Linked DNA regions of Homo sapiens. The protein of the gene in region 2 purifies or fractionates together with the protein of the main gene of each other region. This does not show direct contact. Each region holds a gene or a part of one and is shown on either strand. Other genes may lie near its edges.

Evidence for each region.
Region 1: the proteins of SFRP4 (region 2) and GAPDHS purify together in Homo sapiens (affinity purification with mass spectrometry; one large-scale study listed by BioGRID and IntAct). This does not show direct contact.
Region 3: the proteins of SFRP4 (region 2) and LRP1B purify together in Homo sapiens (affinity purification with mass spectrometry, with the first as the bait; one large-scale study listed by BioGRID). This does not show direct contact.
Region 4: the proteins of SFRP4 (region 2) and AKAP11 purify together in Homo sapiens (affinity purification with mass spectrometry; 2 studies listed by BioGRID and IntAct, with this or other methods). This does not show direct contact.
Region 5: the proteins of SFRP4 (region 2) and SIRT1 purify together in Homo sapiens (affinity purification with mass spectrometry; 3 studies listed by BioGRID and IntAct, with this or other methods). This does not show direct contact.
Region 6: the proteins of SFRP4 (region 2) and DICER1 purify together in Homo sapiens (affinity purification with mass spectrometry, with the first as the bait; one large-scale study listed by BioGRID). This does not show direct contact.
Region 7: the proteins of SFRP4 (region 2) and DCAF8 purify together in Homo sapiens (affinity purification with mass spectrometry; one large-scale study listed by BioGRID and IntAct). This does not show direct contact.

Annotation. Positions count from the first base shown.
Region 1 is NC_000019.10:35,539,956-35,543,455, reverse strand, and holds part of GAPDHS (glyceraldehyde-3-phosphate dehydrogenase, testis-specific), read right to left. Parts: intron 2,719-3,500; exon of another isoform or gene 1,872-2,718; intron 1,706-1,871; exon of another isoform or gene 1,382-1,705; intron 1,138-1,381; coding exon 1,047-1,137; intron 967-1,046; coding exon 848-966; intron 546-847; exon of another isoform or gene 512-545; coding exon 430-511; exon of another isoform or gene 183-429; intron 117-182; coding exon 1-116. UniProt on the Homo sapiens protein: May play an important role in regulating the switch between different pathways for energy production during spermiogenesis and in the spermatozoon. Required for sperm motility and male fertility.
Region 2 is NC_000007.14:37,910,318-37,913,817, forward strand, and holds part of SFRP4 (secreted frizzled-related protein 4 precursor), read right to left. Parts: intron 2,001-3,500; coding exon 1,802-2,000; intron 1-1,801.
Region 3 is NC_000002.12:140,353,517-140,357,016, forward strand, and holds part of LRP1B (low-density lipoprotein receptor-related protein 1B precursor), read right to left. Parts: intron 2,961-3,500; coding exon 2,826-2,960; intron 1-2,825. UniProt on the Homo sapiens protein: Potential cell surface proteins that bind and internalize ligands in the process of receptor-mediated endocytosis.
Region 4 is NC_000013.11:42,306,652-42,310,151, reverse strand, and holds part of AKAP11 (A-kinase anchor protein 11), read right to left. Parts: intron 1,699-3,500; coding exon 1,543-1,698; intron 1-1,542. UniProt on the Homo sapiens protein: Binds to type II regulatory subunits of protein kinase A and anchors/targets them.
Region 5 is NC_000010.11:67,905,156-67,908,655, reverse strand, and holds part of SIRT1 (NAD-dependent protein deacetylase sirtuin-1), read right to left. Parts: intron 2,494-3,500; exon of another isoform or gene 2,402-2,493; coding exon of another isoform or gene 2,369-2,401; intron 1,867-2,368; coding exon 1,719-1,866; intron 611-1,718; coding exon 531-610; intron 1-530. UniProt on the Homo sapiens protein: NAD-dependent protein deacetylase that links transcriptional regulation directly to intracellular energetics and participates in the coordination of several separated cellular functions such as cell cycle, response to DNA damage, metabolism, apoptosis and autophagy.
Region 6 is NC_000014.9:95,151,030-95,154,529, forward strand, and holds part of DICER1 (endoribonuclease Dicer), read right to left. Parts: intron 1-3,500. UniProt on the Homo sapiens protein: Double-stranded RNA (dsRNA) endoribonuclease playing a central role in short dsRNA-mediated post-transcriptional gene silencing.
Region 7 is NC_000001.11:160,256,050-160,259,549, forward strand, and holds part of DCAF8 (DDB1- and CUL4-associated factor 8), read right to left. Parts: intron 1-3,500. UniProt on the Homo sapiens protein: May function as a substrate receptor for CUL4-DDB1 E3 ubiquitin-protein ligase complex.

The DNA.
Region 1 (3,500 bases), on a different chromosome or scaffold from region 2:
GCAGCCCCAGTGGAGGCTGGGATGATGTTCTGGTGGGCACCCCGCCCATCTCGCCAGGCCTTCCTTGATGGCCCGTCCACTGTCTTCTGGGTGGCCGTGTAGGAATGGACTGTGGTCTTGGGGAAGAGAAGGACCAAGATGAGGCCTTCATGCTCCTAAGCTCCCATGCCTCTTTTTTCCAGGACTAAGTTGGTGGCCTAGGTGTGGAGGCTGGTGGGGCCACCACCACAGACCACAGGAGGGGATGTGTGCAGGCCAGGGTCCAGCCTTGCCTGAGGGTTGCACAGTGTTTTAAGTGACTTCTGCACTGGTGGGCCTCTCCTCCCGAAACCAGTCTCTCCCTCTTAACTCCATACAGTAAGCAAGGCCCGGGAAGAAGTTGGGTTTCCCTGCCATCCTTCCTGCCCCAGCCCCTCATCCTCAACTCACCATCAACCCTTCCACGATCCCAAATCGCTCGTGGATGACTTTGGCGAGGGGAGCCAAACAGTTGGTGGTGCAGGACGCGTTGCTGAAACAGCCAAGGTGTGCACGGACACTGTGAGGTGAGTCGCAGAGCCACCCCTCCACCCTTACCCCTCTTGGGGTATGCACGCAGACTTGGTTTTATGAAACGTCAGGATGAGGGTGAGAGGGATCTGTGGGGACACTGTCAGACTGAAGGAGGCACTGAGGTGCAGCTGGGGAGGCTCCCCAAGCTTGTCCTCTGGAAGTCATGCGTTTTTAGCAGATAGTTTCGGGAAGGAGAAGCAGAAGCCAAGCGACCAGGAATCCAGTGGGGCTGAGGGTGGGGAGGACGAGTCTACCCTCCCTTCCACACATTGCAGGATGTCACTGCCCACATTACCTCACAATGTTCATGGAGCCAGGGTTATAGTCATTTTCATTGACACCCATGACGAACATTGGTGCATCCGGTGAGGGCGCGGAGATGACCACACGTTGAGCACCTGCAGAGATGTGGTCCTGGGGAGGAAGCGCAGGTGTCAGGGGCTTCTGGCACCATCATCCCCCCAGCTAGCCCTGGGCACCTCTCCCCAGCTTACCGAAGCTGCCTGTATGGAGAGGTACACGCCTGTGGACTCCACCACGTAGGGGCTCCCGACAGCCCTCCAGGGGATCTGTTTGGGCTCTTTGCTGTGGGGAAGTGGCAGGGCTGAGTCAGTCTCCCCTGCTTGAGCCCCACCTTCATAGTCCATGGCTTTCACCATTTGACAGGCTGAGCAGGTACCGGCCCACCTGCAACCACCTGCGTCCCCTACCCCACACACCTACTTGTTCCAGATGGGCTCCACCCCGCTGGCCTAGCTTTTCACCACTGCCCCACTTCAGACCACTTTCCCTTTGCTGATTGCACCACCCCTGTTATGCCTGGGTACAGGTGGTGACCTCCCCAACTCAGCCCTCAACCTCCTCAGAGGCGCCAATGCTGACTGCTGTCAGCCAGCCCAGACCCTTTCTCCATATGCTGCCCGGGACGTGGACTCTGTGACTGTGAGGCCTGCCCGGCTGCTTTCTGCTTCCCAGCTCTGACAACCTCGCCATGAACCCTCCTAGACCCTCAGCTCCTGCAATAGGAAGCTGGCTGCCAAAGGCCAGGAGGGTCCCTGAAAACAGACACTGCATTAAAGAAAAAGCTCCTGGAGGACTCCTGAAGCCTGAGGCAGCCTTGGGGCAGCAGTGGCTCATGGTTTACATTGGAAAGGTAAGGGAGGTTTCTGGTTTCCTGTTTTATAAATTTATGTTTTTACTTGGTATTTTGACAAACATTTGTATTTGAAGCACACTAAACATCTAGTATTGCCGTTTTCTACTTGGCTTTAGCAAACAAGCATTAAGTGAATAAACTGTTCCACTTTCTTCCTTCCCAGGTTTATCATGAGTAACCGGGTGCTTTGCTTCTGTGATTCTTGGCCAGTGTCGGTCTGTTTCCTTTGCCATTGAGCCTGCTCCCCTCAATGGGGGGTTCAATCAATGTTTGTGGGGTTTGTTTGTTTTGAGACAGGGTCTTCCTCTGTCGCCCAGGCTGGAGTGCAGTGGTGCAATCAGAGCTCACTGCAGCCTTGATCTTCCTGGCTCCGGCCATCCTCCTGCCTTGGCCTCCCGAGTAGCTGGGACTACAGGCGCACACCACCATGCCAAGCTAATTTTTAAATTTTTTTGTAGAGATGGGGTCTCACTTTTGTTGCCCAGGGTGCTTTAGAACCCCTGGGCTCAAGTGATCCTTGACCTCCCACAGTGCTGGGATTACAGGTGTGAGCCACCGTGCCTGGCCTCATGGGTTTTCTTTGTTTTGTTTTGTTTTGTTTTTGAGACAGAGTCTCACTCTGTCACTCAGGCTGGAGTGCAGTGGCACGATTTTGGCTCACTGCAACCTCCACCTTCCGGGTTCAAGCGATTCTCCTGCCTCCGCCTCCCGAGTAGTTGGGGTTACAGGCATGCGCTACCACACCTGGCTAGTTTTTTATTGTTGTTGTTTTTTGTATTTTTAGTGGTGACGGGGTTTGCTCTGTTGGCCAGGCTGGTCTCAAACTCCTGACCTCAGGTGATCCCCACTTCAGCCTCCCAAAGTGCTGGGATGACAGGCATGAGCCTCTGCACCTGGCCTCGTGTTTTTTTTTTAGTTAGCCATTTTATACGTGTTTACTGAACACCTGTCCTGTGCCCATATTCTAAGTGCCTTACCTGCATTAAACTCATGTAACCTTCACAACCCGATGAGGAAGTGCTACCGCTGTCATTTTTTGCATTTTTTTACTGCTGTCAGGGCAGAGGGGAGGGGAGTGAGAGGGAGAGCCTGCTGGAGTGCAGGTGGCTGGTCCCACCTCGGGTCTGCACTCCTGTTTCCACTGCCTGAATGAATGAATGAATGGGCTGCCCTGCAAAGCCATCACACATGCATGGTTATCCTCTTCCTGTCTCCTGCTCTGTCAGTCCACTTTCCATCATCTGGCCCAACGAGCTCTTCTCAGATACCCCCCATTTCCTGCCTTCCAAATTAGGGACACTTGCGATTCCTCTGCAACAATTGCTGAGTTGGCCTGAGGCAAAGACTGTGCCCCCAGAAGACCCCAGGCCCTCCCCAAGGCTGTCATGGGCCCCAGCCTCCTGCCCACCAGGCTGTTTTGAGGATTCCATTCATTCATTCAAAGGAAGTTCTGAATGGCTATCAGGGCCTGTACCTGCTAATGCCAGAGCAACAGTGGTGGTACCAGTTGACAGAGCCCTCCGTGCAAGGCCATGGCCTTGTGGGAAGTGCCCGTTTAAGTGTCCACAAACACATGTTCACTCCATTCGTGCTCCCAGCTACCGCTGTGGTGGGTTTGCTCATCATCCCCATCAGATACAGCGGGGAACTGAGGCTCAGGCAAGTTTGGTTCCTTGCCCAAGGTCACCCAGCTAGCTAGCGGAGGTGCAGGGCAGAGTGCAGGCACACAGCCTGGCTTGTGCAGCCCAACAGTGCGGGGATGGAGAGGGGGCTGGAGGGGCGGGGAACTGCA
Region 2 (3,500 bases):
TATTTGTATTACTATTTGAACTTCTCTATATAAATTTCTGTATATATATTTCTATATCATGATCTCAATGTTTAAATATTAATTTTATGAACTCTTTAGTAAGATTACTATTTTTTCATATCTTTTCAAGTATGTTTCTCAATTTTTATTTGCCTTTCTATCATTATTTGTGATTTTTATATGTATAATATTATGCAGTCAGATATGTGTATTGATATTTTTCCTTGTAATTTCTTACATTACTTTTATGTTTACAAATTACTTTTCTTTTCAGATATAACATATTTAGTCACTAATTTTGTCCTTTTTTTAAAGTTCTTAGAATATTTATCTATTTAATCCATTTGAAAGTTATTGTAAAGCACAGTATAAAGTGAAAAGAATGTATTTTTTTACAAATAGGAATATTTTCAACATTTACCAAATAATACATTCATTTTCTATTGATGTGCCATATTTCCTTCATAATGAAAAGCTGTATTTTATGCATTAAAACCTGTTTCAAGAGTTTTTCCTCTGTTTCATTTATCTTTACGTCTACTATTGCATCACATGGTTTTAACAAGTGTAACTTTACACCAGGTTTGCGGGTCTCATAAGGCAGATTTCCTCTCTTATTTTCAGAATTGTCTTTACATACCCTTACCAATTTATTAGAATCATTTGTGAGGACATAAATCCCAATTATCCAAAACTATTTTTACTGGGATGGATTATAATCCATTCATCTCTCCAGATAGAATGTAATGACCAACAACCTGGTATCCCCAACTGGATCTCTAGCACTGCAGCAGATGCAAACACCTTGGTAGAGATGAGTCCAGAATCACTGATTGCTTCTTTAGGGAGACAAGATATACGCAGAATCTGGCTTTAAAACCAAGAACTCAAGGTGATATCCATGTTGTAAGGAGGGCACCCAAGTACTGATAGAATACAGAAAAGTGGAGTTAGTTCCCAAAGATGTTTTTGGTTTCTTTTCAGAGGAATAGTCTTAGGTTATATCTAGAAGAAACAGATGAGCATTAACAGCAGAGAATGGGAGGGATGCCTTGTTATGTAAAACTGAGTGATTTTGCTGGAGAAGTATACTGCATCAACTTATGGGGCCCAACATGGAGGCTGGGCTCAAGAGTTTGACTTTATATTACAAGTAATGTACCAATATCCAAAAAAAATAAGAAAGAAAGAGAGGCCAGGGAGACAAATACACACAGCTAGAATTTGTGTGTATGTGTATGAGTGTGTGTGAAGCATATATTTATTTGTTTATACATTGCCTTGTGATGATTTGAATTGAGAATCACATATCCGATTCAGAAATCACCTTAAAGTGTGTGTGTGTGCATGCGTGTTTGTTTGCAATACTCTATCAAATATTATGAAGTGTTTATATGGAAAATATGTGGAACTATAGTCTCAACTCCCTACTTACTTGATCTGTAAGCTATTAAAGTGGCCTTAAAAGTTCAGTATGTGCCACTCTAAAATTGTTTGAATGATTTGAAAAGAATTGTTCTTCCTTAAAATAATTGACTTGCTGTAAATTTTGAAGTCACTTAATGAATTTTGAAACTGATTTTTAAAGACTCTATTCAAATACTCATATTTTGATTTTTCCTTCATTCTATGAAGAATTAATTGATAGAATATATGCTATTCAAACAGAGGCATCTGTTAAACTAATTTTTTTAAAAAGACTTTGGCATATTTTTGTTATATTTTTAAACCATGACTGCTAACTGAGATTGAGGTCTTCCTAACAGTGTGCATACAGTTCCTTCTGCCTCTTTGTGCCTACCTTGAGCGCCACTCGTAACACATGATGAGAACATCTTGATGGGGCAGGATGTGTGGACACTGGCAAGAAGAATTTGTAATGAGCGGGACTTGAGTTCGAGGGATGGGTGATGAGGACTTGAAGATCTCTTTTACATCCACCACCGTTGTGACCTCATTGCAGCCACTCCTCTGCACAGCTTTTATTTTGGCATGAATAACTGCAATTTAAAAATAGATAAAAGTGTTGTTGAAGGTTTTGGGGAAAAACTAGGGATGGTGTATTCATGCCAACTTCTGAGCCTCTCTTAAAGAATCACTCCTGTAATTATGGTTATGTCCAAGTGGCCTGAGTGCAGGCAAACAGCCCACACAGTCATATGCTAAATGGATGGTGTCCTATATTGTCAACATTGTCTTAAATGTTCCGGGGCATACTGCAAGATAGGAAAGCAAGCTGAAAAGCAGGTTTTAGTCTTTCTCTGCCTTTAGGTCAGTAAAAAATTCACAGAAACATATATTTGTATTCTTCCTTGTGGTGATTTGAAGTGGGGATCATATATATTCAGATCAGAAGTCATCTTAAGGTTTGCATTTCTTCAATCACTCATCTGATGCTTGAGCTTCTTCTGTTTTACAGAGATAGTCATTAGTCATAACATTTTTGAACTGGAGGGAGTCTCTGAGGACTACTGTTCTCAATCTTTTAACTTCACAGACTGACAAAGTAGACCCATGGTGAGCAGAGATAGAACTGTTATTACAGATGGCTGTTAATGTCACTGTCTCTGACCAAGTTTTAAATGCTGGTTTCTGTGGTCTCTTGCTATTACTGCCTCCCGTAGAGTTGTAATCAGCCTAATATGGCTCTGTCTTGGATTCCATTTCAGGAAGCCAGTTTATGAAGACACCAAAGGACTTGAATACAAAATGGTTTCTTCATCAAGGTCGTTCAAAGGCCATAACACCCCAGAGAATGACATGACAGTGAAACTCAGATTAATATCTCAGGCTGGATCTTGGCAGAGGAGGGACTAAGTAAATCAGATGAGGATGGTAGCTACATAGAGCAGGCTTTAAGAAAAAAAGCTACAGGAAAAGATAAACTACTTTTTGTTGTTGCTGAATTACCCCCATTGGCTAAATATGATTCTTAAATCTGATAGTTTTGTAACAGCTTATTTTTTTTCAGATTTCTACATTTCTGTGATCCTCCTACTTTCATGTCTGATATGTATCCTAAAGTTTCTTACTGATATAAAATTTCAATCTGCAAGATGAAAACTAAGTCAGCAAACAAAATAAGCATTTTCCCTAAAACCACTTTATGTTATTTCAGCAGAAATGATTTAAGACATGCAATGAAATATAAAGTAGGCAGCCCAAACAGACATTTTTAAAATGTCTGCCTTTTACATTTCTTTTTGAATTGAAAAAGAACATATGTTAATTAAATTTACTTTCAGATGACAATTGTGAAATTAAAATTACTTAAAACATTTCAAATTTCATGACTGACTTATTCATGGAAGAAAATGCTGAATGGTTCTTTCAAGTAAGAGAGAGGAGGGCATTTAAACTAGTTCGATAGTGTAACCATAGGATTTTGTGATTAACATTTTTTTCACAATTTATTTAAGATGTTAAATATTTGTAGCTAGTCACAAGTAAAAGGATATGCAGGCAGATCTTAATTGTCTGGGCCTATGGGCCTTAATTCT
Region 3 (3,500 bases), on a different chromosome or scaffold from region 2:
CCATGCCTTCGAAGGTATCATGGGCTATTCTTTCATCCCGTAATGCCCTTGCCCACTTTTCCATACAGAATTTCTACTCATCTTTCAAGATCCACCTGAAATAAAGCCTTCCTTGGTCTCCAACCATATATGGGAGTGATGATTCATCCTTAGTTTCTCCAGTTTTTGCTCTCCTGGTGTTTCTCTCTTACACTGTTGCTTATATTTCAGGAATGTGGTTACATATTCATATTCCCTTGAGGACATAAATTATGATACATTCCTTTTTTATTGCCAGATTTTGCACAATGACTGGCAGAGAACAAAGATTTGGGCACATCTCTAACACACTTCTGGACTCATATATATGAAGTGACTACGTAACAAGAAGGGCTGTATTGAGGTTATGTGATGTGAATTAAGCAAGCAAAATCTGCATGCCTATATATGAATAAATACCTCTAAATCACTAGCATAAATAAATAAATCACAGGCAGTATTCATGTGATTTAATCAGAGTCATGTAGCTTGGCACATGACTCTAATTTTAAGGGCTTATGAAGAGCCAGGATTGAGGCCAGGTGATTCTAGGGAATTATCTAATTTTCCTCTCTTTTCCTCCTCTACTTTTGTGTTTAGCCAGCATATTTCCCCTGCCTCATTTTATCACTTATAATCTCCTAATTACCTAATAAATCTGTGAGATAAATCCTTCCCTTGAATTAGAGAACTTAAGAATCAGCACAGTAAGAATAACTATCTTTTGCGTAGCACACAAACAATGTTCTAAGGGCTCAGAGGTAGAGACACTTGTAAATCACAACGTCAAGGCTTAAACTCAGGTTTTCTGATTTTGTTGACTTTACTGTGATACTTTGCCTAAGAACACATAAGCATTTTCATGACCACACATTGCTATTTGATTGAAATGTAGAGTAAAGAGATGCAGAAAAGTGTATTTCGTTGTTTTTAATAAATATTTTACAGGAATGAAGTAGAATGCATCTTGTCAGTACTTAACCATCACGATTACAACAAATATTTCTGATTTGTTCAGCCCCTGTAACTTTGAACCGGCAGTTATTTGTCACTATGGTTTCCCTTTGGTACAGAATCCAAATAAGCAGTATTCTGCATGATTTCATACAACCTCAACTTCCTCACTTGTCATTATACTGGCCTGAACCATCATTTTCGCCTCATCTCTAGAAAGCCTGGATCATGAGCTTTTGAAGGGGATGGAGGAATTCCACACATGCCTAGTACCCAAAACAGTACCTGGCACTCAGCAACTGTTAATCCCCTTCTAATTTTCTTCCACCATTCCTCTTTACTTTTTTCCCTTTAGATATTCTAATTGAAGTGTTTGGGCTTTAACATCAAATAGCAATTTCTTATGCATTTTTTCAGATACATAAGTGAAGGGCACAAACAAATTTAAATTTTTGGATTATAGAATCCAATTATGTCTTACCCTTCTTTGACACTGAAATAGAACTATTTTCCTTAAAATCAAAACTTTATTTATTAAAAATAGATGAACATTTTATTAGAGTTCAGAAGTTACTCGTCTGTCCTACAAAATAATACAAAAAAGTGGATTCATAGCAATTTAAAATAAAGAATGTAGTGTGCAGGTTATATTTGCTGTGGAATGTAATTAAAAATTAAGAAAACTTTAATAATATAATTTCTAAATTTAGTACATATATACAGAAAAAACCCACTGACAAATATTAGAAAATAAATGTTATTGAAATTAAAATATTGAAAGAATTGTGTGTGTGTGTGTTTATATGTAATTGATAGAAAGAGCCTGGGAAAAATAAATACCATAGTTTGAAAGATAATTCATTTTTTAACTAAAACACAGAAAACCTAGGTTGTCATCTTTCAGTCTCATAGTAATGGAACAATCAAATGTCACGAATAATCCAAATACACATTTAACTCAAAATGTAGATAAACATGACGTGACTACACTTTTTCCCCTTTTGGGTGAGTAGAATCAATTCATTTAAATAATTCCATTTTGATTAACACGAAGTAGAATCATTTTTCTTAACCTCAAAATATCACAAAGAGACATAACAAAAGCAAGCTGGTAGGTAAAAGCACTTAAAGACTTGAATTTAGCCTGGATAAGCCAGACTTAGTTATTTTAGGTTTGGCTGTACTTACATTAATATGAATATGAATACAAATAGCAGTTTTATTGGAGAAACTTGCAGAAAGTGCATATGGGTCTGTATTTCATGGTTCTATAGTTAGAACACTGATGTAATTATATTTACTTACTTACTATAAGATTTTGGCTATCCTACATGCTCAATTTTTAAATGATCTCAAGTAAGTTGACAGATTTATGTAGATCCTGACTTTGAATTTTTAAAGATACATTATGATCTATTTAAAACATGGTTTTAGGACAAAAGCCCATGACTCTCTAAATGTGATTTACCTATTCCAGTATTGCAAATTCCACACTCAAGAGAAATGGGTCATCATAAACATATTTTTTCATGAAGCAAGACTAATTCTCCAATAGTTCCTGAACCAGGAATTTCGTTATTTGCATTTCAAAACAGTATTGTAGCAATAGAATTGAAATTCCTGCAGCTCTGAATTTGCTATAGAAAAAGCTTTGTAGCCTCTGTCGTGGTTAGCTTAGCTCCACAAACAAGCTCTTGACCCCAGAGACTTTCATTCTCATAAGTGAAATGGTATCCCGTAGATACACACCATTTTGATGAAAGTCAATCCCCTGTGATCTCACAATTTAGAAGTCTTGGGAATCTTCATAACCCAAAGATTTATGAGCAAACTGTTGAAGAAAAGTACTCTACCTTCACATTGTCTGTTTTTCATGTTTCTCTGAAATCCAGGCTTACAGCGACAGAAAACAGATGTTTTTATTTGATTACAATATGCATCATCTCCACATGGATTCACATTATCTTCACAGGTATATTCAGTAGGAGCTGGGATTTAAAAATATGATCAAAACTAATATAATTCTAATTCCTGAAGTGGGGAGTTAACTTTTAAAAAATGTTTGAAATGGTATTTATTATTCCACAGATAACTCTTTTTGAATGTACAAGGTTACGGTCTTCTCTCCATATAAGCCCCCATGTCTTATAAATGTATAGAAGTATAAAAACTAAACTCATTAACATTAAATACAGATTAGACCAAGCTGCTAACAGTTGATATTTAGAGCTGCTGTTAAGCTGTAACACTTTTTAAAAATAAGTCAGGAGTCAATGATTCTAATGACAGGCTATCTTTATTATAGTACGATATATGAGTACTACATCCTTCTCTGAGAGCCAAAGCATTTCCTATAAGCTACCTAGAAATTTAGGCATTTATTGCTAACCTAAGCTTAATATTTGTAAACTCAATCAAGGGTACTGCTAAGTTACTCAAGCAAGTTGTCTAAATCAGCAGTTTAAATTTCATTTTTTTATGCTGGACATACATATGAAGAGTAACATTTGAGTGTGTAATGTGCTCAT
Region 4 (3,500 bases), on a different chromosome or scaffold from region 2:
ATTTTCTGAGCCTAAATGCATTTATCCATGTTAAACATAATTATTTTAACCTCAGCTTGATTTGGTCTTTTTAACCTTTGTTCTGTTAATGAGATTCTTTTTTCAGCCTGTGTTGAATCATCCACAAATGAGTATTCCACATCATTAATAAATAATGCTAAGGAGGACAGAACCAAGGACAGAAACCGGTAAGACGACTCCTTTTTCTCATCAAATTAGATAATATTCAGCACAGAGTTGTTCAACTGACTACAAGTCCTCTTAATGCTTAAAGCCTCTACCCACACCTCAATCTCCCATTTTAACGCCAGGATTTCCTAGGCAACACTGTCAACCCCACTGAAATCATAGAAGCCTGTGTTTCTCAAAATGAGAGAAGAAACTAAATGTTAGTATCCTTTTCTAGATAAAGTTATAGAAAAGGGCCAAATCATGATTTGTGACATTGCCCCCACTTGCTTCTACCAGTTTTAAACACTGTCTTTTTGGACCTAGATTTTAAGAAATATTGGTGGTTTATATAGCACCATAATAAACTATGACAAAATATACTTTACAAAAATATTAATATTTCCAGGTTAATCCAAGCATCGAACAAAACTCTTCGAGATGAAGTGTTCTATCAGGTGAAAAGCCATTTCCTTTCCTTATGCTACCTCATTCCCTTTTCCAAGAGTTGCCTTCCCTCCCACACCTAGTTTGCCATTTCCAGGGGCTAAGTTCAACTGATGGTCCACAGGTCCTTTCCACACATGCCTGAAACCAGCAATATGCTAAGAACCCTTTCCTCCCTCAAGACTCTGCTACAAATGGTATCTATTATTTCCAGTTATCACTTAATGTGGATAAAGAGTTTATAGAATTTTATAGGTTAGTCAGAAATGCCTTTAGGTAGAGGTTAAGACTATAAGAAACAACTGTCTCATAATTAATAAAATATTTCAAACACCACTGTTATGAACAAAGTTAACTAAGAAAAGTTATATATGAGGTAAGTGCCTTGTGCTATACAAAATCACATTTTTATAATGGCTTTGACTTACGTATTTTCAATCATTCAAGCATAAGTCTTCCAGGTCATTTTGTTCCTAACAGCAGGACAAGCAGGGACCCTCGCCCCACCAAAAAGATACTATTTTAACTAATGTCAGGAAAAGTACAGGGCTACTTTGATGCCTTTTACAGATACCTGTCCTTTTTCTTGTTCTTTAAAGAAAAAAAAGTACCCTTTTTAAAGTGAAAAAAAAAATTTTTCCTCAGAAGTTCATAAAAAGTTTGGGAGAAGCTTAAAAGGCATAAAATTAAATGTATGCAATATTTTTCAAATCAACTATTGGCACACCCCAATAAAATTAGCTGGGCTACTTACTGTATTAAATAAGTGTTAAAAACAATTAGAAATACATTGTGAATAATAAAATACATTTTGAAAGTAATAGCATATTTTCAAATTTAGAATTTTTAAATAATAATGTAAATTTATAGCTCACTTCTAAGATCTGAGGACCTAAACTACACAATTATATGCAAAAGTGTAGTTACCTTTCACTTAGATGATGAAAACTGCTGCTTTCATCTTGGTGTTCATCTTCAAAACTTAAATTGGACCAGCTACCAGTGCTGTCATCACCAATACTGAGGTTCATCTGCTGGCTACTGACAGACTCGGTTGACTGAAAGTCTTCTATTTCTTTTGAACTAAAAAGAAGAAAAAAAGAAAAAAAATCAAATTGAAAGCATCCCAGATTCTGAACTTACAAGACTATCAATTTGATGACAAAGATGATAAAAACAAGAAATGGTATTCGGAATCAGACCAGTGGCTCATGTAATCCTTTATTTGAGTCTGCCAACAAACAGACTGTAGGATAGCGTATTAATTTCAAAGTTAACTGAGGTACCCACCAACAGCCATAACTTACTTTGTTAATCTACAATGGATCTATCCCTAGGGCATTATTTCTCTAAATTCTACTTAAAGCAGTTCATTTTTCAACTGAGATACCATGGGGCAGTACAAGTTCCTAAGTTATCATCTGCTTTGTAAAACAGTACTTTTATTTATGTTAAAGGAGTCTCTTTCTGGCTTTAAGAACAAAAAAGTCGTTCAAGAAATTCTAGTATTGTCAACCAAGCCTGTATTCAAACTAACCAAATCTCTTCAAGATTTTGAACATAGATCATAACCCCTTTCATTTTTCTCAATAAGAGGCATTTATACTTTTATTCCATCATCACAAGAAAGTCCATTCACTGCTCAACTATTTTAATTGTCCCACTACATTTTATGTTCAACAAAGTAGTTCAAAGTGATGTTTCCATAAAAAGAAAAAATGTCAGTCTTCGGATCAAAACCTTCCAATGGCTTCCCACCAAGCCGAAGAGCCCAAATCCTTAAAACATACTGCCTGTCCCCTCTTATAACATCCATCTGAACTCCTACTGTTCTCCCTGGCCCACTCCTCCTATGTTCTCCCTGGCCCACTCCTCCCACTTCAGCAATACAAGCCTCTCTGTTGTTTCCCAAACATGCACAGTCCCACCCCTAGGCCTGGAAATCTGTTCTCGGTGACTCCCACATGACTTATTCTCATTTCACTTTTGGTTTTTGGCTCAAGTATCACTTTGCCAGTATTGTTTCCCCTGCTACCTATCCAAAACTGTAAACCAGCCCTAATGGCCACCGCCACTGTCACCACCAGCACTCTCTAACTCCCTAACTCCCTACCTTGCTTTATTTTTCCCCCAAAGCACTTATCACTATGTGACATACTATATATTTTACTTACCTATTGTCTTATTCCACTATAACATAAGCTCCAAGAGAATGCAGATTTTTGCCTGTTTTACTTACTTCCGTATCCCTAGTGCTATCCTGAGAATAGCCCCTGAATTGCCCCCCATTTTTTCAGCTATTCTAATTTTGTAAGATACAGAATGATACTGAGCATTCCAAGCATAGGCACATTATAGTTCTGAACCATTGATAGATTACTACTTTGTTTTTTTGAATACTTTTCCTAATATGTGCCACATTCTCATGGTTTTTGGCTGAAATGACCCAAAGGATGAGGTCCAGAGAAGAGTTTATAATGACTGTGAGGTTATTTTGGCTCGGAATGATAGCTTAGAATATAATCGTTTTGTTGGCTAAAAATGCACTATCAGCCAGGCACGGTGGCTCATGCTTGCAATCTCAGCACTTTGGGAGGCTAGGGCAGGAGGATTGCTTGAGCTCAGGAATTCAAGATCAGCCTGAGCAACATAGTGAGATCTCATCTCTACAAACAAACAACAACAAACAAAAATGAATAAAAATGTACTATCACATAATTTCCCAATTGCATTCACATGCCACCTCTCTGTTCATTACAGTTTGTGAAATATTTATGGTCATGTTCATGAATCAAACAAAAAGGGACATCAGGTGAAATAATACCTTAAAGAATAATCCATCTGAATGAATCTCCTTTCAAGTTTGAAAGACAAATTTAACTTTA
Region 5 (3,500 bases), on a different chromosome or scaffold from region 2:
CTGGGATTACAAGCATGAGCCACTGCACCCGACCAATGACTCCATTTTAATATACTATTCTTCCTCTTTCGTAATGACATGATTACCTCCATATATTGCTAAGCACACAGGACATATTTCTGGATAATTTTTATTTTCTGCCAAATTTTCCTATATTTTTTGGCAATGAACATGTATGAAATAATTTTAGATTACCATAACTAATTTAAGGTCCAAATCTGACAGGCACAAAAAGGGAGAGGAAGGAGAAAAACTACTACAACAACAACTTGCTTATGATCTGACATTTTATGTTCGGCTTAGATACTAAGAAGCCAATTTCATAATTTGAAGAGCCTTTATAGGGCTGTTTTCTATATAAGGTATTGAAAGGTTCTCGTGTATTTTACCAAAATTCCCAAATGCTAACTATTTTCTTCCTGAATCTTTCTGTACCATATATACTTTAAAGGGGTAAAAAAGGATTTTGAGGCAAAAGAAGAAATACTTCAGAGACATGAACAATTCCTAAAATATGGGCAACAAATTACCTGATTAAAAATATCTCCTCGTACAGCTTCACAGTCAACTTTGTATTTACAAATCAGGCAAGATGCTGTTGCAAAGGAACCTAAAAACAAACAACATATATATGCTTTATTAAAGAAGTATTTCTGTTTCTTGAACACACCACAAACGTTATAAAGTTTAACATCACAAATGTTAAGAGGGTTTAAGGATTTTTGTTTTTGTTTTTAACTTTGATTTTAAACCTCAGAACACACTGCAGATTTTGTGATATACTACAGGAGAATCTAGGGGATGAAGAATTTATATATTTATACATAGAATGAATATGATTCTCAATCTCTGAGACACTAATATAATGATGCCTTCTAAAGCTACTCTTTTCAACAAAACTGTAACAGCTCACTCCTCCAGGGCTAAAATCCTGCAGAGTTGGACAGTTCCAACTCTATTACCTTAGCTCGGCAGTTCTTAGAAACACTTTAGATACCTAATGGCCTGTTGATACTTGTTTTAAACATTTCTGAATCTCTGAATCCTGTACATCTCAACTATCCAGTTCTTTTAGTTTCATAAACTAAAGATGTCACATTTCTTCATTAACAGCTAATACTACTCTTGTATTCAGAATTTCTTTTTCTTTTTTTTTTTTTTTTTTGACAGAGTCTCACTGTCTCCCAGGCTGGAGCGCAATGGTGCAATCTTGGCTCGCTGCAACCTCCAACTCCCAGGTTCAAGTGATTCTCGTGCCTCAGCCTCCTGAGTAGCTGGGATTACAGGCGCCTGCCACCATGCCCGGCTAATTTTAGTATTTCTAGTAGAGTTGGGATTTCACCATGTTGGCCAAGCTGTTCTCGAACTCTTGGCTTCATGGGATCTGCCCGCCTCGGCTTCCCAAAGTGCTAGGATTACAGGCGTGAGCCACTGCACTCAGCCAGAAAAGATTATTTAAAATAATTGAATGCATGCAACTGCAGCATCTTTTGAAATCAAAAGCAAATTAATATCTGAGGTTTTCTATAATTAACTGTCAAGGCCAATACTTCTGTTTTTATTATTTTTGTTTTCTACTTTTCTGAGGTTATCGATAAATGAGATAACATGATTAAATAATGCTTTATCTCCACTTCTCGATGGCAGTCAGCTTTATAGGAAATATCTTCCTATAAAACTAAAATAAATTACAGAAAACCACTCTGAAGTTTACTAACCATGACACTGAATTATCCTTTGGATTCCCGCAACCTGTTCCAGCGTGTCTATGTTCTGGGTATAGTTGCGAAGTAGTTTTCCTTCCTTATCTGACAAGGCTATGAATTTGTGACAGAGAGATGGCTGGAATTGTCCAGGATATATTTCCTGTATCAAGCAAATGGTAGAAAAAATTTACATTAGTGAAATAAACTACAGATGTCATATGTTTAACAAAAAAATACTGATAATCCCACACACATAATTTTAAAAATGAAATAGATGAGCATTTTAAAGTATCTAGATGGATGCGACACACACCTACAAAAGGACGGTTGCTGTCATATGCATAAAACTCAGCAATTAGTGAACTTGGCCCCTTGAAGAAAAAGACAAAGTCGGCCCATAAACATCTCTAAGAAATGTTGATATTTTAATAAAAGTCAGAAGTAATACAACCTTAGGATATCTAATTTTTGTTGGCTGCAAATTCAGATTTTTTTCTTTAAAGAAAAATGGGAAAGTTTAAACTAAAATTACAGATATCAAGGTAGGGTGATTTAAAAAAAAAAGCACTGTCAATACAAGAATATTTAAAATTTTTTTTTGATTTATCATTCATTAGAATATCAACCTGCTGGAAGTTTAAAGCTAAAGTTTTAATCCTTACCAAAATTGTTTTCCTTCCACTGCACAGGCACATACTGGTATAGTATAGAGTTGCTCATGAATGCTGAGTTGCTGGATTTTGTGTGTGTGTTTTTCCCCCCAAATAATGCTTCAATGCTGTTTCTTCTTTAAAAACAAAGAATTCAGATATACACATGGCAAAAAGATCAGAGAAAAAGTATCAATTTTGGTCCTCCCAACTTTTGACAGTGTTTTTATTAAATTCCATTTAGTAAGTGACTATGGCAAAGGAAGTTTATTCTCTACTTTTTCCTTCAAAGTAGTAGTGCTATCATCTACTTACTTCCTTACCATTCATTACAGGCTCTAATCTATCACAATGCTAGCAAAAAACTAGACACAACCATATGTCCATCAATAGGGAACCGGTTGTATAAATATGGTACATCCATAATAGTGGAATATGTAGCCATTAAAAAGAATTGAGGGAGATCTAGATGAACTGCCCTGGAAAATGGTTCATGACATACGTGAAAAAAGCAAATTAGTCACCAGTATGTGTAACTTTTGTTTTTGTTACTAAGCAAAAATTGAAATTATATGCATATGTATATAGAGATGTCCATTTAATCAATCAAGTCAGGAAGGATACAAACAGGCTGTAAGCAGATGTGGGGAACTTTCACTTCTGACATTATACAAAAAAGTTTAATAGAGATTAAAGATGACTTTTTACCTATTTAATCTTTCAAATTAAAAAAAAATTCCCACTGCAACTTCTAGGTTCTACTACCCAGGCTTCTAAGTAAAACTTAAGTGAATTCCGTTAACAGCTATCACATACATGTACACATGCTGCTAAAAACCTCGTATAAAGAATCCAAAAACGTTGCCTTAGATTCAAATATTTATCACAAATTTCATGAATAACTCTTTGCAATTTAAGAAATAGAGAGTGCATATAGTAGCAAGGGAAAAGCTTAATAAAGTCAATGTTTACAGAAAATCAAAAGCCACTGTTTTGGAAAAGTGAGTTCAGTTAAATCAACCACTGTTTTCTTCCCCAGAATGCTTTGTTCTAGTACATTTACATTTGAGAGATTAAGCATTGTATGTCTCATTAAAGCTCCCTCTGGAAATAGCTTTTAGAGTATTTTAGGCACTATGAGAAT
Region 6 (3,500 bases), on a different chromosome or scaffold from region 2:
AAACCTGAATCTAATCATAAGGAAACATAAAACCTAACTTGAGGTTTATTTTACAAAACACTTGGCTTTATACACTGAATTGAAGTATGATTTCAAGGATGATGTGTTAATTCATGCATAGCAGATGAAGAATGTGTTATTTAGGGAAAGTTAAGAGACGTTTAAGGCACTGTTACATTTGGTATCACTACTACAGAGACCAACTAAGATAGCTGAACCAGTATAGATAATCCTCCTCGAAAACTTGTCTGTAAAATATTGTTCTCAAGCCCTCTTTTCCTTCATCCTCCATTATATTACTAGACCATACATTTCAATATTGATAATTTGGGGGCTCACAATATAATCTAATCACATTAAGACTATTGCATGTTAAAATTTTCTCTAATACACGTATTTAAAAGAAAAATATTACATTAATTTTATCAAATGCTAGTTATGTACCATGAGAGTTTAAGAAACTCCTTTTTTTTCTCAAAACCTCAAGAGGCAAACACCACTACGACAGTTTATAGACAAGGAAGCTGAGACTCAAGAGACGTTGCCATATGCCCAGTGCTCATCGGCTATAAAGTCGAAGAATCAGGATTTGAACCCTGGTCTCTCTGACGCCAAACACTTGCTCTTAAGCATCCCTACAAAGCTATGATAAAACATTAATATTTAACTCTGCAAAGTGGAAAGAACTTAAAATACCATGAATCAGAGCAACTGACAGTGATGGCTGGGCAGCAGGATGCATAAGAGGCGGACAGGCTGTGAGTTCATCATGTTAATCTCACCTCCCAGGATGTTACCAAAAGAGGAAAGACAGAAATCCTGCAATCTCGAAACATCTCAGAGGACTAAATACGACTAAATACGACTACTACCTTTCTTTTTCCCTTCAAACAGGGTCATTTAACTTCTTAATCAAAGAACCTTCCTACATCATGTCAAAGATCAGTTTTTAAACTAAGAGTCTTCTCTCATTATTCAAGTTCTCTAAGTACAACCGGTTTGTTTTCTTAAAATTCTGAACTGGTTAACAGACCTCATTTTCTAATCCTCAAGAATTGTTCAAATGTGTTGTTAAAACCCCTGCTTTATGGCATACATTGAGCTGTCAAAGAACGAACAAGCACAACAGAGTTAGTCTGTGCCAACAAGGAGAAAGTCTGCAATACAGTTAAACTCCAATTTTGACGGCGATTTTCTCCCACGATTCTTAACACTTCCCTCAGTCTGCAATGTTTCTGTGCACATAATCATACGTACCTCACAAAGCAAAAAGGACCAAGTAGCATGATTTGTCCAAAAGCAGAATAGTAATAATCTTTTTAAAAGCCTTAATATGCAAGCAATATTCTTCCCCACAAAACTGTGTTAGCTTCTAAATACTTCAAAAAGTATTATAAATTAACTTACTCACTCAACAAATCGGAGTGTCTCCTATATGTCAAGCACCATGTCTGGTAATGAACATGCATGAAGAATCTAATCCTTACTATTCCATAAACCTTAACACAACCAAGAACATGTAATGCTGTTATAAGCCTAAAAAACAAAAAGAAAAAACTCTAAGGCCAAACTTAAGCCTGTCATGTCTTACTTCTAGTAACAGTCTTACTGACATCCTCAGAGAATGTTTTGTAGCATCTTCTTAGTCACTTATTTAAAATGCATATTGAGGTAACTGCATGTTAAAGGAGTACCAACAATTCATTGACAATTTTAGATGAGGAAGCCATTTTGCACTCAGAATTATTTTAACAAAGGCTTTATTACATAACTGAAAATGTCAATTTCACCAGCTACATCTCAAAAATAATCTTTTTCTTTCTGTATTAATTCATCAAGTATACACCACGATACAACCAGTCTTACTTTTTAGACCAACACACGTTCCTAAAGACTGGGTGAGAGGGCTGGGCACGGTGGCTCACACCTGTAATCCCAGCACTTTGGGAGGCCGAGACGGGAGGATCACGAGGTCAGGAGATCAAGACCATCCTGGCTAAACACGGTGAAACCTCATCTCTACTAAAAATACAAAAAATTAGCAGGGTGTGGTGGCGGGCACCTGTAGTCCCAGCTACTCGGGAGGCTGAGGCAGGAGAATGGCATGAGCCCAGGAGGCGGAGCTTGCCGTGAGCTGAGATCGCACCACTGCACTCCAGCCTGGGCAACGTAGTGAGACTCCGTCTCAAAAAAAAAAAAAAGACTGGGTGAGAATTCCTATTTGGAAAATCCTCACTGCCCATGTTGTCCACAGAGCTTATTCCTGAATGGATTGTTATTTAGCATCTGTCAACAGCCTGAATGAGACAACTGATATTCGAGGGACACCACCCAAAAGAAATTAATGAATCAAACCACTGGAACAGTGAACACCTGTATTACTAAAGCTTTTCTATTATGCCTGAGGCTTTTATCCAGTTTCTCTAAAATGGCATGTGAAAAAATGTTTCTCTATCGTTTGTAAAATGTAAAACATTTTCTCCATATATTGCTAATGTTATTTAATGTAATAATCCAAAAGATTGATTATTCTTCATACAAGAGAAAAATCTGCTTCAAATTGGTATGCTTCCTTTCATTAATCAACGTGAGTTACATGCAGCACTCACCTTTCCTTGCCCCAATCATTCATCTAATTCTCTGCCTCCACATTCTATACTACCAACCTTTACCATTTTCATAGTACTCTAATACTTTCCTATTATAAGACCATTTCAAATCCTTTCTCAAAATAGACATCATAAACTATTAAATAAATGTACTAATACTAGAGTCTTAGCAGAAATTTGGAAGAAGTGAAAACTAGCCATCAAAAAATCAAAAGGTCCAAGCCCCACAGGCTAAGGAGGTGGAATACCAAGAAAATAATGCTGCCTCAGAAGACTAGTCATTTGGCAAGTCGTAAATTGCAAAGAAACCTGTGAATAAGAGCGAGTATAATACATACACTGGGCTTTCAGGATGAACTAAGCTCTTGAATGTCCAAAAAGCACAGCAAAAGGTAAACAAAATAAGTCACTTGGCTCCAACTTTCTCTTTATACAAATTAAAGACCTCACCAATATCTTCCTCTGGCATTCAATAAAGCACATCACTCCATGTTTGATCAGTTTTTTGAATACCTGCCAGACACTATGATTGGAACCAAGATCGTAAAAAGGAGTCGACCCTGGGCTTCAGAGAGATTACAGATTTTACTGACAGAGGAGTTGTTTGTAGGAAATTATCACTGCTTGGAGGAACCCTGAGAAAACTCATACTGCAATAAATTCTGAGTCTAGTCTAGTGTTTTGAAGATCAAGAAACAATGTGACCACTTTGAGGTATATGTCTAAAAGAAGGGAAAGCATGGACTCCAATGAATTATTTGTATACCTACGTTCACAGCACCATTATTCACAGTAGCCAAAAGATAGAAGCTACCCAAGTGGCCATGGACAGATGAATGGATAAACAAAATGCAGTATATTCATACAATGAAATACCATTCAGCTTTTCCA
Region 7 (3,500 bases), on a different chromosome or scaffold from region 2:
GGTCTTGCTATGTTGCCAGCCTGAAACTCCTGGGCTCAAGCAGTCCTCCCAACTCAGCCCCCCGAGTAGTTGGGATTACAGGTACATGCCACTGCACCTGGCTAAGAGAACTTTCTATAAAAACATCCAGGACCATTTATCTCAGTTTAACTAATTCCTAGGGAAATCTACTTTTCATTTTGTTTCCATCTCAATTTACATTTACATCAGAAGTCTGTTGCCATTAACAGTTTTTGCCATTTATATTTCAAATTTTTCTTAAACTGGAGAGGATTTAAGATGAAAAAATGATGCTCCCAAGGTACAACTTACAATAAAACATTAAAGAGAGGCTTAAAACCTCAAGAAGTGCCTTCCTACAGGTTAGGTTAGAAGAAAGGGTCTAATGTTGGATTCTAAGTAAGGTTAACAAAACATACCTGGTAATGTGGCAATCATTAAAGTACACCAGAGGAATACAGTAACTTGACTACCATTAGAGGTAAACCCTATAGTAGCTTTCCAGATGGCTAAGAAAAAGCCAGGAAGAAAAAAAAAAATGGCACGTGAGGCAAATATGTATGCTTCACTTTAGAACTTGGCCAGACTTCCTTAAACAGTAACTTCAGAGGATAAACAGCAAATATCTAATCTAAAATGTTTGCATTGACCCAATCCACTAGACATACTATTAATACATTTCATTAATAAGATGACATCTTTGTCATATTAATTACTCCCCAATGCCCTATTGGCAACCTCAAGGCAGCCTCCGTTCATTAATTTATCTGTATCATAACACATTCCTGGGGTTAGATGGTACTTGAGAAATCTGGCTTCTGGCCCAGGAACTATGTCCTACAGAGGTAGAGATAAAAAAAAACTGCTGCAAAGAAGTGACTAATTCATAAAATTCATCACTCGCTAATTTTTGAAAAGCTTTCAAAGACTTTCTACTCACTCCAAGAGCAGAATGACTAAATCAATAAAGAGCAAGTAGCCTCCTTTTCTGACTGATTTTAACAGCAATGATGTTTCTTGGCTACATTTGTAAAAATAAAAGATGAAGTTTTTAATATTACTATAAAGCTAATCTAAAACTCACTGGCTTTTGGCTCTAAAATGAAAATATACAAAGTCACTACCCCATGCCTATTGCTGATTCAATTAATTCAGTTGCCTGTGTTCCAAATAGGTGAGGGTAAACAGCAGATTATCTTAGCTCACTGATAATCTGCTTTAAAAAAAAAAAAAGCTAATTCAATCTCAGAGACTTAAAAACTAACTCTAACACCAATGTTATGCAATAAAAAGTCTGGTTTGGATACCGTTATTTCTCTTTTATAATCTGGATATTTCCTAGACATGTTTAGAATAAACTTTTATACAGTAGAAATAATGGAGTAATGAATCTATCTACTGAAAGCATTTTAATAGTCACTTTATGATTTTAAAAGCCTATTACTCCCCTGATAGAATACAAGACTTAGAGCACGAAACTCAAGATCCCAGTCTTTCACAACAGGGTGCGCTTCTATACAATGTCTCCTACTAGAATCTGTTTGCTTTTAAAATGCCAGTATTGTTTTAAACTGGCAACAAAGAGGCTGCTTTCTTTCAGCTCTCTGTAGACAAGCTTCTGTCTTAGGTTGGTCCTACTCCACACTAAGGACCATGGCACTGGAACTGATTCTTTTTTTTGAGACTAGGTCTCGCTCTGTTGCCCATACTAAACTGCAGAGGCGCAATCTCAGCGCACTGCAGTGATCACTGCGCAATCTCAGCTCTACCTCCTGGACTCAAACAATCCTCCCACCTCAGCCTCCCAAGGAGATGGGACTGCAAGTACTTGCCCCATGCTTGGCTTTTTTTTTAAACTTTTTGTAGAGACAAGGTCTCAATATTGCCTAGGCTGGACTTGAACAACTAGGATCAAGTGATCCTCCCACCTTGGCCTCCCAAAAGTGCTGGGATTACAGCCATGAGCCAGCCGCACTCAGCCTGGCAGATTCTTATACATTTAATTGACTGCATTTAGCAGGGTGCAGTGGCTCACGCCTGTAATCCCAGCACTCTGGGAGGCTGAGGCAGGAGGATTGCTTGAGCCCAGGGGTTTGAAACCAGCCTGGGCAATATGGTGAAACCTCATCTTTACAAAAAATACAAAAATTAGCCAGGTACGGTGGCGTGCACCTGTAGTCCCAGCTACTCGAGAGGCTGAGATGGGAGAATCACCTAAGCCCAAGAGGTCGAGGTTGCAGTGAGCCATGATAGTGCCACTGCACTCTAGGTGACAGAGTGAGATCCTATTTCAAAAATAAATAAATAGACTGCACTTTAAGAGGTTGGTGGTGGGAACTAAAAGGTCACAAGCATTCTTAGCCTCCCACTCTAATCATCCTAGGAAATACTACCTAATAAGATGTCACAATTCTTAAGTAAACACCTAAAACCCTGGAAATATAAAAATATCTTCAAGCTGGGTGCTGCGGCTATGCCTGTAATCCCAGCACTTTGGGAGGCCAAGATGGGAGCATCACTTGAGCCGGGCAAGTAAGACCTCATCTCTTTAAAAAAACAAACAAACAAAAAAAAAACAACCAAAAATTAGCTAGGTATGGTGATATGCCCCTGCGGTCCCAGCTACTCAGCTGAGGTGGGAAGATCACTTGAGCCCAGGAGTTTGAGACCAGCCTAGGCAACAAAGTGAGACCCTATCTCTACAAAAATAAAAAAAACTTTAGAAAGATAAAAAGTTTACAGTGTGGTCCACAGACTAGAAATACTGATTTACTACATATAGATGTCACCTGGACATTCTTACCCAGCACATAAGGAAATAAACAGTCCAAGTTATCCCTCTTTCAAAGTATTTCCTTTTCTCCTCCCATCCTTTCCTTCACCCGACATGGATCTTCAGAGTTCATAAAAACACAAATGATACAAATGCAATCTCAACCCACCTCACCACCACCCTGGAGAATCCTTACCTTACAATGGAGAATTTAGACCCTGGATGATGGTAATGAAAAGTTCATCAAACCTAAAATGGTCACTGGTCTGAATGACACAGCTGCTTTCATTGTGATATTATCAGTACTTAATTTTCATGTGCCCTTGCCAAAAAGATACGAAAGAAAAGCCAACAAAAGGTTTAAAACTCTTCATCTGTGCTGTCATATTATTAAGACGGTCCAGCTGTGGAGCTGAAAAAAGAACTCTTTGGCCGGGCATGGTGGTTCACACCTGTAATCCTAGCACTTTGGGAGGCTGAGGCGGGCAGATCACAAGGTCAGGAGATTGAGACCACCCTGGCCAACATGGTGAAACCCCTCCTCTACTAAAAATACAAAAATTAGCTGGGCATGGTGGCGCATGCCTGTAATCCCAGCTACTCGGGAGGTTGAGGCAGGAGAATCGCTTGAACCAGGGAGTCGGAGGTTGCAGTGGGCTGAGATCGCGCCACAGCACCCCAGCCTGGTGACAGAGCAAGACTCGTCAAAAAACAAACAAACAAACAA